Homo sapiens: one gene and its partners. The protein of the gene in region 1 interacts with the protein of each later gene in a biochemical or structural test. Each region holds a gene or a part of one and is shown in the gene's direction. Other genes may lie near its edges. The genes, in order: TRPC1, HOMER3 and RHOA.

Region 1 (3,653 bases):
ATTGGTTAGATAATAGTAGAACTGGCATTTATCTTGAGCCTGCACTCCTAACCACTACGTTATATAGATCTGGTTGTAGGTGAATGAGTGAACATCATTTGTGTCAGAAAAGACACATCCATATTTGGACTTACTAGTTGAAATTACATTTTCTTTGTATGGATGCTTTATAAACCTTGATTTCTGTGTATTACATTTGTTCAATGAAGGGTAAAAAGCAAGCATGGTACTTCAGTAGCACCAGAGTAAATCAACTCTAGAGTATCTATGGTGTTCTAGAGTGTCTCATTCTTTTCATGTAGCATTCTTGTTGTACATATGCAAAATGTTCATAACATATTCTTCTTAGGAAAAATTGAGGAATTCCTAAAGCAAAAATTGTGGAGATGAGATGGATATGTGTATGTTAGTGGATGGGTGGCCCTTTGAAAGATGTGTACAGATTAAAGAGTACAATAAATGTAGGAAAGAGAAAAGAAAAAGATTTATAGTTTGTGATAGCTGGCTTTTATGTAAGTAAGTTCGGTAGATTTAGGCAACTGCTGATCTAGGTAGTGGCCACTTAGTAATGGCTGTTAGTGATCTTCATAGTGGGTGAGGATCATCTCAGAGGTAACATTGAATCCTTTCTTTGTAAAGGAAAACCTTAATTGAAAGTTACTGTGCCAGCAATATATAAAGTGAAGTCTAGGACCCCCAGATAAAATTCTCAGAAAGTATACTCATGTTCTTTCTAGAGATAGAAAGCTATATAAATTCAGAGGTAAAACTTAATTGAAACAAGAGCTGACTATAAATATGTTGTTTTATGAAAAATTAAGTAGTGATTCTTACAGCCATGGCTTTGTCCTCTCTCATTGAGAATTAGTGTCATAATGAGCCTCTTTTATTTGTAGGCACCTATGGTGTCCCTCAGGTCTGTTAACAGGAGAAAGGGTAAATAAGTTTATTTAGAAAACACCTAAACTAAGTGTAGTTCATGTTAATTTTCCTCTAAAAAAAAAAAACTTGTTGAGTAGATGGTAGCTTTTAGTATATATTTGTAAATATAAACCTGCATAAACTGTTTGATTTGCTGATGATCATTAATCAGTTCATGTGGAGGAAAGAAAGTATGAAATGATTCAGTCCCTGCCAACTCTCCATGGAGAGTATTTTCAGGAAATCTGATGTGCGGTAAATGAGTTAGAAGCCCCTTCTTGAAATTTCAGCATGGGGTTAGGGGGAGGGATGGAGAGAGCAGGTTTTCACCTTTATCAGTGGGCTCAGCCTAGTCTCAGTGTCCTGTGTCACCTTTGTGGTAAGATTTGCTGTGTTGTAAGGAAAAATGTTTTGATGACTGTATTTCTTTTTTTTTTTTTTTGAGATGGAGTTTCTCTTGTTGCACAGGCTGGAGTGCAGTGCAACCTCCGCCTCCCGGGTTCCAGCGATTCTCCGGCCTCAGCCTCAGCCTCCTGAGTGGCTGGGATTACAGGTGCCCACCACCACGCCCGGCTAATTTTTTTGTATTTTTAGTAGAGACAGGGTTTCACCATGTTGGCCAGGCTGGTCTCAAACTCCCGACCTCGAGTGATCCACCCGCCTCGGCTTCCCAAAGTGCTGGGATTATAGGCGTGGGCCACCGTGCCTGGCCTGATGACTGACTTTCTCCATAAGCTTTGTGTACCTTTGGGCTAAGGATGCTTTAAAAATGTGCAACAACTCCAGAGAGAAGCCAGAGTCAGAAGAAAAAAGTGCAGCATTTCTGAGAGAAGTAATATTAAGCTGCTGTTTTTTAAACACCTTATTTATATATAATGGGCCTTTAAAATTTTTTTACTTATTTGAGAAGAGATTTTGAAGTCTGGTATTAGAGAGGATGGTGGTGGGAAGAAACAAAAAATGCAGAGTACTGAGTATTGGTGTGAAGTGTTATGTTGACAATGGGGCACCTAATGTAAGGAGGTATGTGCTGTGAGGAAAAAACTTTGCAGAAATGAGAGGTAAAGAGGGTATTGTAGGCAGCATTCTATAAACACTTCACAAATCATCATAGACATAGCATTTATGTACTTTATATAGGAAAGCTTTTCAAATAACCAAAGTTTTACAATGTAATAGTTGAAAAACATTGCCATGGCGAACGGTTCAGGGATACTTTAACAACAGCAACGAAAGACTCAAATTGCGAAAATCTTAGTGGATAATTTATCTCTAACAGACTAGTAATTCAGCAGCTAGCTGCCTGGTAGTTCTATGATACTGGTAATTCTTTATAGTGATCACGCAACTTTGCTGCTCTTTTTCTGTAAGTCACAATCAAACTATACTTATCAAGCTGTTAATTGTGTTAAGGCACTGTGAAAGTGCTTTATCAAGAAAGTACTGAGTACATCCCTATCCTTTAGGAGAATATTCTTTAATGGAGATGCTCTCTTGTGCTCTAGCGAGGAGAAGTAAGGAAACAAAAGTATGTTTGTATTAAATATATCTGTCTGAAGGGAAGAAGCAAGTGCTCAATTTAACTTAAATGGCCTATATGTGATTTGGAGAATGGGATATTACGTGTACAGGGTCAGTCTTTTATCTGGGCAGTTAAAAAAAATGTAACCCAAGCCAGACTCCTAGCTATACCTTGTATATAGACTTGGAGGAAGAGTGTGAAAAGATTAAATTTTATTATATAGGTATTATCGTAACCTAATAATTCCTCTTCTACCTTGCTGCCAGTGCTCTAAATATCTTCTTCATTGCTAACTCTTCCAAATTTAATGATACTGAGAAATTTAAGATTTAAGATCAATAGTTGAATAGGTAATGAGGATTTCAAAAGTTATCACTAAGATGTGATTAACTAATGACTTTTAGGAGCCTAGATGAATGATAAGGACTAAAAGAATTCCAGCACTGTATCAATATAGTCATGAGACTCAGTAGATTTCTTTGGATGCCAAAGCTTTGTTATGTATAAAGTGGGGGTGACTGGCACTGTTATTAATAGCTTCTGTTAATTTTTAAACATATGTTTTTCTAGATTAACATATTGGCCAGTAATATATTTTTCTAGTTTTATAAATATGTATAATTCAAATGTATATGAGATTAAATTTAAGCAACACAATAAATCCTTTCTGAGACTGTGTTGCAACAACCTGATATAAACTAAGTTTTAAACAACTTACAGCAGCATTGTGAATGGGATCTCATGTCATTTATCAGACTCTAACTACAAAATAAACATTGCTTTTGACTATTTTTCTAATAGAGTTAAGAATATGCTGTTTATAATTTTTATCAACTGATTTACTATGAAAAAATCAGCATTACCTTCTGTGCTATAGTGTAATTTTTTCAGGCAGCAGTGTGAATCTTTGCTCTTTTGCCAAATGATATTCATTATTATTAATGGTCCTCATTAAGATTCATAAGCAACTAAGAAATTATGGTAATAATTGTCTTTTTACAAAAATGTTCAAAGTGTTATAAACAGTTTAGCCTACCATGTTTTTTAGTATCTTTAATTTTGAAGGTTTCATTTACAATAATATGGTTATAAATACATTGGGGTCTGTAATACGAGTTTTGCACATTTGATAAAGCTACATTTTAAATCATTTTCACTGTAAAAAGTCTGCATGGGTTTTTTTTTTTTTTCCTTTTTAAAATTTGGTTCA
Region 2 (3,653 bases), on another chromosome or scaffold:
TATCTTCCCATCTGCAGGATGGGATTGTAGGATGAGTTGAGACTGAAGCCCCTTTAAGCTTCCCCGGTTTGATTCCTAGTTCATTTTTCTGTTTTTTTTTTGAGATAGGCTGCAGTGATCTTGGCTCACGCAACCTCCGCCTCCCGGGTTCAAGCGATTCTCCTGCCTCAGCCTCCTGAGTAGCTGGGACTACAGGAGTCCGCCACCACGCCCAGCTAATTTTTTGTATTTTATTAGAGACAGGGTTTCACCATGTTGGCCAGGCTGGTCTCGAACTCCTGACCTGAAATGATCTGCCTGCCTCGGCCTCCCAAAGTGCTGCAATTACAGGCATGAGCCACTGTACCTGCTCTTGAGTCCTAGTTCTACTGCCTGTAGCTCTAATTTTGGACACACCCTGCTCCTCTTTGGGACATCAAATGGGTGGCTGGGCTGGGCTGGGCACTTTCCCACATGCCCCAGCAATACCTTCATCCTCACCTCCCTGCACCCTGTGCCGTCTCTATACTTCCATTATTATCTTTATCCGTGGTTTTGTTGATGATGAGTGCTTTCACGAAGATCTTCTTCTTTTTTTTTTTTTTTTTTTGGAGATAATGCCTTGCTCTGTCCCCCAGGCTGGAGTGCAGTGGCACGATCTCGGCTCACTGCAACCTCCACCTCCCGGGTTCAAGCGATTCTCCTGCCTCAGCCTCTGGAGTAGCTGGGATTACAGGTGCCCACCACCTCGCCCAGCTAATTTTTGTATTTTTAGTGGAGATGGGATTTTGTTGGCCAGGGTGGTCTTGAACTCCTGACCTCAGATGATCCACCTGCCTCGGCCTCCCAAAGTGCTGGGATTACAGGCATGAGCTACCACACCAGGCTTTCTTTGTTTTCTTCTAGAAGGTTTAGAATTTACCTTTCTTCTTTTTTTTTCCCTCCCTCCCTCCCTTCTTTTTTTTTTTTTTTTTAACAAGATCTTGCTCTGCTGTCCAGGCTGGAGTGAAGCAGTGCAATCATGGCTCACTGCAGCCTCAAACTCCTGGGCACAAGGGATCCTCCCACCTCAGCCTCCTGACTAGCTGAGACTATAGGCGTATGCCACCATGCCTAGCTAATATCTTTAATCTTATTTTTTTTAGAGATAGGATCTCACTATGTTGTCCAGGCTGTTCTTGACTCCTGGCCTCAAGCGAGCCTCTCACTTTGGCCTCCTAAAGTGCTGGGATTACAGGCTTGAGCCACTGCACCCAGACAATTTACTTTTTTTTTTTTTTTTGAGACGGAGTCTCGCTCTGTCGCACAGGCTGGAGTGCAGTGGCGCGATCTTGGCTCACTGCAAGCTCTGCCTCCCAGGTTCACACCATTCTTCTGATTCTTCTGCCTCAGCCTCCCTAGTAGCTGGGACTACAGGCGCCTGCCACCACGCCCTGCTAATTTTTTTTGTATTTTTAATAGAGACGGGGGTTTCACCGTGTTAGCCAGGATGGTCTCGATCTCCTGACCTCGTGATCCACCCACCTTGGCCTCCCAAAGTGCTGGGATTACAGGTGTGAGCCACCGCGCCCGGCCCCAACAATTTACCTTTCTAATTTAGGTCTTTTTTTTTTTTTTGGAGACAGAGTCTAGCTCTGTTGCCAGGCTGGAGTGCAGTGGCCCGATCTCGGCTCACTGCAACCTCTTCTCTCCAGGTTCAAGCAATTCTCCTGCCTCAGCTTCCCAAGTAGTTGGGATTACAGACACACCACACCTGGCTAATTTTTGTATTTTTACAAAATTTTTGTTTTTTTAATTTTTGTATTCTTAGCAGAGACAGGGTTTCACTATGTTGGCCAGGCTGGTCTCAAACTCCTGACTTCAGGTAATCCGCCTGCCTCAGGCTCCCAAAGTGATGGGATTACAGGTGTGAGCCACTGCACCCAGCCTAAAAAATCATTTATTTATTTATTTATTTATTTATTTTTTTGAGACAGAGTTTCACTCTTGTCCCCCAGGCTGGAGTGCAATGGTGCGATCTCGGCTCACCGCAACTTCCGCCTCCCCGGTTCAAGCAATTCTCCTTCCTCAGCCTCCCAAGTAGCTGGGATTACAGTCATGTGCCACCATGCCTGGCTGATTTTGTATTTTTAGTAGACATGGGGTTTCACCATGTTGGTCAGCCTGCTCTTGAACTCCTGACCTCATGATCCACCTGCCTCGGCCTCCCAAAGTGCTGGGATTACAAGCGTGAGCCACCACACATGGCCTTATCTATTTATTTTGAGACAGAGTTTTGCTCTGTCACCCAGGCTGGAGTGCAATGGCACAATCTCAGCTCACTGCAACCTCCACCTCCTGGGCTCAAGCAATTCTCCTGCCTCAGCCTCCCAAGTACTAGGATTACAGGCGCCCACCACCATGCCTGGCTAATTTTTGTGTTTTTAGTAGAGATGGGGTTTCACCATGTTGGCCAGGCTGGTTTCGAACTCCTGACCTCAAATGATCCGCCCGCCTTGGTCTCCCAAAGTGCTGGGATTACAGGTGTGAGCCACCGCACCCGGCCTAAAAAATTATTTTTAAACTAAGGAAATTTATTTTAAAACCGGGGTGGTGGGGGGAAACATATCCTATCCTAACTGGAAAACTGGTATTGCTTTGTCATAAATAGGTGGTAAATGTAAACATGTAAACATTTAATACAACAAAAACAAGAATGAGATGATTACTTTCTCATTGACTTCTGATGTCTCTCAGAGCCTGAGACCTAATCTCTTTGTTATAAAGGAATAATAACAGGTGTTAAAGACAGATTAGCACCCACCTGAGGCTCTCTTTGTTGAAATAGCCCTGATAAAGATTAAAAGGGACCCCACATGTTGGCTCATACCTGTCATTCTCACACTTTGGGAGGCCGAGGTGGGTGGATCACGGGGTCAGGAGTTCGAGACCAGCATGGCCAATATGGTGAAACCCCATCTGTACTAAATACAAAAATTAGCTGGGCGTGGTGGCACGGGCCTGTAGTCCTAGCTACTCGGGAGGTTGAGGCAGAAGACTCGCTTGAACCTGGGAGGCAGAGGTTGCAGTGAGCTGAGATGGTGCCACTGCACTCCAGCCAGGGTGACAAAGCGAGATTCTGTCCCCCCCCAAAAAAAAAAAAAAAAAAGGCTGGGTGCTGTGCCTGTAATCCCACCACTTTGGGAGGCTGAGGCAGGCGGATCACTTCAAGCCGGGAATTTAAGATCAGCCTGGCCAACATGGTAAAACCACATCTCTACTAAAAATATGAAAATTAGCCAGGCATGCTGGTGCATGCCTGTAATCCCAGCTACTCATGAGGCTGAAGCAGAGGCTGCCGTGAGCCAAGATCATGTCACTGCACTCCAGCCTGGGCAACAGAGCAAGACTCCATCTCAAAAAAAAAAAAAACAAAAAACAGGAAAAGGGCCATTCTGGGGAACATGGCTAGACCCCGTCTCTAGAAAAAATTAGCCGGGCATGATGGCACACACCTGTAGTCCCAGCTCCTTGGTGGAGGGGTAAGGTGGAAGGGTCACTTGAGCCAGGGAGGTCAAGGCTGCAGTGAGCCGAGATCATGCCACTGTACTGCAGCCTGGGTGACAAAGTGAGACCCTTTCCTAAAAAGAGGACATGGGAATTCCTTTCCCTTTCTCAATGTGGCCCAATGTATT
Region 3 (3,653 bases), about 93 Mb from region 1:
GCACTTTGGGAGGCCGAGGCGGGCGGATCACGAGGTCTGGAGACCATCCTGGCTAACACGGTGAAACCCCGTCTCTACTAAAAATACAAAAAAAATTAGCTGGGTGTGGTGGCGGGCGCCTGTAGTCCCAGCTGCTCTGGAGGCTGAGGCAGGGGAATGGCGTGAACCCGAGAGGCGGAGCTTGCCGTGAGCTGAGATCGCGCCACTGTGCTCCAGCCAGGGCAACAGAGCGAGACTCCGTCTCAAAAAAAAAAAAAAAGGATCTTAAGTATTTTGTCTGACTCTGCCATTTAGTTTATTCCTTTGTTTACCTGCCCAATGGAACTGTTTGCTTGTAACTACACATTAATATAACTAAATTTTGAACTTAATGTTACATGCCTTGCTATACATGGGGCTCTTTGGGGACATGCTCATTTGTGGGATTAAAATTTCCAAGACGGTTTGAAGTTTGTAATTACTATAAAATCCCTCATCTTTAATCTGTGGAGCTGTAGTATTAAGTGAAGGCCTTGGTATGTTCATAATTACGATAGTCATGTGACTGAAAATCAGGCACTGAAGCTGCTCGTTCTGGGTGTTGGTCTCAGTTTATTGATGCTTCATCCAAATACATTTTTATAGCTAATAATAAAGAAAAACATCAAATACTCTTGCTAAATTGCAATCAGTATGCAGTTTATGCCAAACTTAGCTTGATTTTATTTTTTGAAGAGGATGAGTATGTATATTTAAGCATATGTGTGTGTGTGTATATGTATATATACTTGTGTATACGTATATACGTGTATACGTATATATATGTGTACATATACGTGTATACGTATATATATGTGTACATATACGTGTGTGTATGTGTGTGTGTATATATATATATTTTTTTTTTTTTCTCTTTTGAGACTGAGTCTCACTCTGTCGTCCGGGCCAGAGTGCAGTAGCGCCATCTCGGCTCACTGCAACCGCCGCCTCCTAGTTCAAGTGATTCTTGTGCCTCGGCCTCTGGAGTAGTTGGGAGTACCAGCATGCGCCACTGTGCTCAGCTAATTTTTGTATTTTTAGTAGAGACGGGGTTTCACCATGTTGGTCAGGCTGTTCTCGAACTCCTGGCCTTGTGATCTGCCCCCCTTGGCCTCTGAAAGTGTTGAGATTGCAGGTGAGAGCCACTATGTCTGGCCATATTTAAGCATATTTATGATAGTATCTTAAATTTAAGTGAAGGGAAAGAGGAAAACATACACAGCCAATGAAGTAAGTTTGAAGTGGAGTGAAAGGAAAAGTTGGAGGTAAAAAGAGGTTAGAGAGGTGGGCAGGGGCCAAATCATATAGGGCCTTTAGGACATGGGAAATTCTTTGGATTTGTTCTGAGATTAGAAGTCATTTAGATATTCTTTAGAAAGGGAATGACATGATCTGATATTAAAAAAAAAACTAGAATCACTGTGAGTAGGAGTAGATCTAATTCCATTCTGACTAAATAGTAAACTAATATGATAATTTGGACAAATATAAAAAGGAATTCCTGGCTGGGAGCAGTGGCTGATGCCTGTAATCCCAGCACTTTGGAAGTGCTGGGCAGGTGGATCACTTGAGGTCAGGAGTTTGAGACCAGCCTGGCCACATGGTGAAACCCTGTCTCTACTAAAAATACAAAACATTAGCTGGGCGTGGCAGCAGGCGCCTATAATCCCGGCTATTCAGGAGGCTGAGATAGGAGAATCACTTTAACCTGGGAGGCGGAGGTTGCTGTGAGCAGAGATCGAGCCATTGCACTCCAGCCTGGGAGACGGTGCAAGACTCAAAAAAAAAAAAAAAAAAAAAAAAACGGAAAGGATTTCATAATATTAATTTCCTTGACTTAGTGACTTCTGCCTATTTTATTTGAAGTCATTGGTTCTTCTCTTCTCTTCTCTTGAGACAGGGTCTCACTGTCACCCAGGCTGGAGTGCAGTGAGTGATCTTTGTTCACTTCAACCTTTGTTTCCCAGGTTCAAGCGATTCTCGTGCCTCAGTCTCTAGAGTAGCTGGGACTACAGGTGTGTGTGTGTGACCATGCCCGACTAATTTTTGTATTTTTAGTAAAGACGGGATCTCACCATGTTGGCCAGGATGGCCTTGATCTCTTGACCTCGTGACCCCGTGACCCACCCACCTTGGCCTCCCAAGGTGTTGGGATTACAAGCATGAGCCACTAAGGATTTGTTTTTAAAATTTTTTTGCTTTATTTTTTTCTTCTCTTTTTTTGTACTAGAGATGGTGTCTTGCTATGTTGCCCAGACAGATCTTGTACTCCTGGGCTCAAGTTGTCCTCCTGCCTCAGCCTCCCAAAGTGCTGGGATTAAAGATGTGAGTCAAGCGATTCTCGTGCCTCAACCTACCCACTAGCTCGATTACAGGTGCCATCCACCACCTGCCCACCACCCTTGGCTAATTTTTGTATTTTGTATTTTAGTAGAGACAAGAATTTTACCATGTCGGCCAGGCTGGTCTCAAATTCCTGACCTCAGGCAATCCACCCGCCTCAGCTTCCTGCTGGGATTACGGGCGTGAGCTACCCTGGCCAAGATTTTTAATTTCTGAAGCTTATAGCTGCTCTAAAGCACAAGGATTCAGTCCCATGATTTAAAAAAGTTGCTTGTTTTGACTTCAAGTATATGGTTGAGCATTCTAACTTTTGTTATGTATACATTTTTATTTTACTGTATTCTTCTAGCCATTGTATCCTAGTCTGTATGTTGCAGATGAGTTGTGATTCTCTGGTGTCTCTTCCATGGACCTAGAGATCATATGCTCTACTACTGGGATTTTTTTTTGTAACTTTGTTTGGGATATAGGCTTTGAGAGGTTAAGGAAGTAAATTTAAGATGGATATTTAATGTTGTAACACTTTGTTAATGCTTTTTTCTACAAGATAATTTTATTATGTGATATGGCAGCTTTGTTGGAAATACCTGTTTTTTTGTGTGTGTGGAAAATTTCTTTTCTGGATGAAATCTCTTGTTTAACTTTTCCAGTTATTCATAATGAAGCTCTGTTTATCTTTTGAAGATCTTAAGTTCAGAAACAGAAGGCAGGCTGCGTATGGTGGCTCATGCCAGTTATCCCAGCACTTTGGGAGGCCGAGGTGGGTGGGTCACCTGAGGTCAGGAGTTCGAAACCAGTCTGACCAACATGGTGAAACCCCATCTCTACTAAAAATACAAAAATCAGCCGAGTGTATTAGTGAGTGCCTGTAATCCCAGCTACTCGGAAGGCTGAAGCAGGAGAATCCCTCGAACTTGAGAGGCGCAGGTTGCAGTGAGCCAAGATTGCTGCACTCCAGCCCGGGCAACAGAGCGAAACTCCGTCTCAAACATACACACAAAAAAAAGAAGGAAAGAAAAGGCAGTAGAGTATCTTATTTAAGAGCATGGATTCTGGAGAGAAACTGACAGTTAAATACTAGCTCTGACACTTGATGGCTTGAGACCCTTGGCAGTAGTATGTCTCCTTTGTAATTCAGTTTTTTTCTTCTGTAGAAAGGGAATGGTAAGGAAGCGCCATGAGATTTCAGTGAGAGAGAAGCACTTACCTCAAGTGCCAGACATGTAGCCCTTCAACTAACTTATTTTATTTATTTATTTTTTGAGATGGAGTTTTGCTCTTGTTGCCCAGGC

Evidence for each region.
Region 2: the proteins of TRPC1 (region 1) and HOMER3 form a complex in vitro, tested with the Homo sapiens proteins (one study listed by BioGRID).
Region 3: the proteins of TRPC1 (region 1) and RHOA form a complex in vitro, tested with the Homo sapiens proteins (one study listed by BioGRID).

What each region holds. Positions count from the first base shown.
Region 1 is NC_000003.12:142,726,988-142,730,640, forward strand, and holds part of TRPC1 (short transient receptor potential channel 1), read left to right. Parts: intron 1-3,653. UniProt on the Homo sapiens protein: Forms a receptor-activated non-selective calcium permeant cation channel. Forms a heteromeric ion channel with TRPC4 or TRPC5 that has reduced calcium permeability compared to the homomeric TRPC4 or TRPC5 channel.
Region 2 is NC_000019.10:18,934,609-18,938,261, reverse strand, and holds part of HOMER3 (homer protein homolog 3), read left to right. Parts: intron 1-3,653. UniProt on the Homo sapiens protein: Postsynaptic density scaffolding protein. Binds and cross-links cytoplasmic regions of GRM1, GRM5, ITPR1, DNM3, RYR1, RYR2, SHANK1 and SHANK3.
Region 3 is NC_000003.12:49,405,402-49,409,054, reverse strand, and holds part of RHOA (transforming protein RhoA isoform 1 precursor), read left to right. Parts: intron 1-2,248; exon of another isoform or gene 2,249-2,343; intron 2,344-3,653. UniProt on the Homo sapiens protein: Small GTPase which cycles between an active GTP-bound and an inactive GDP-bound state.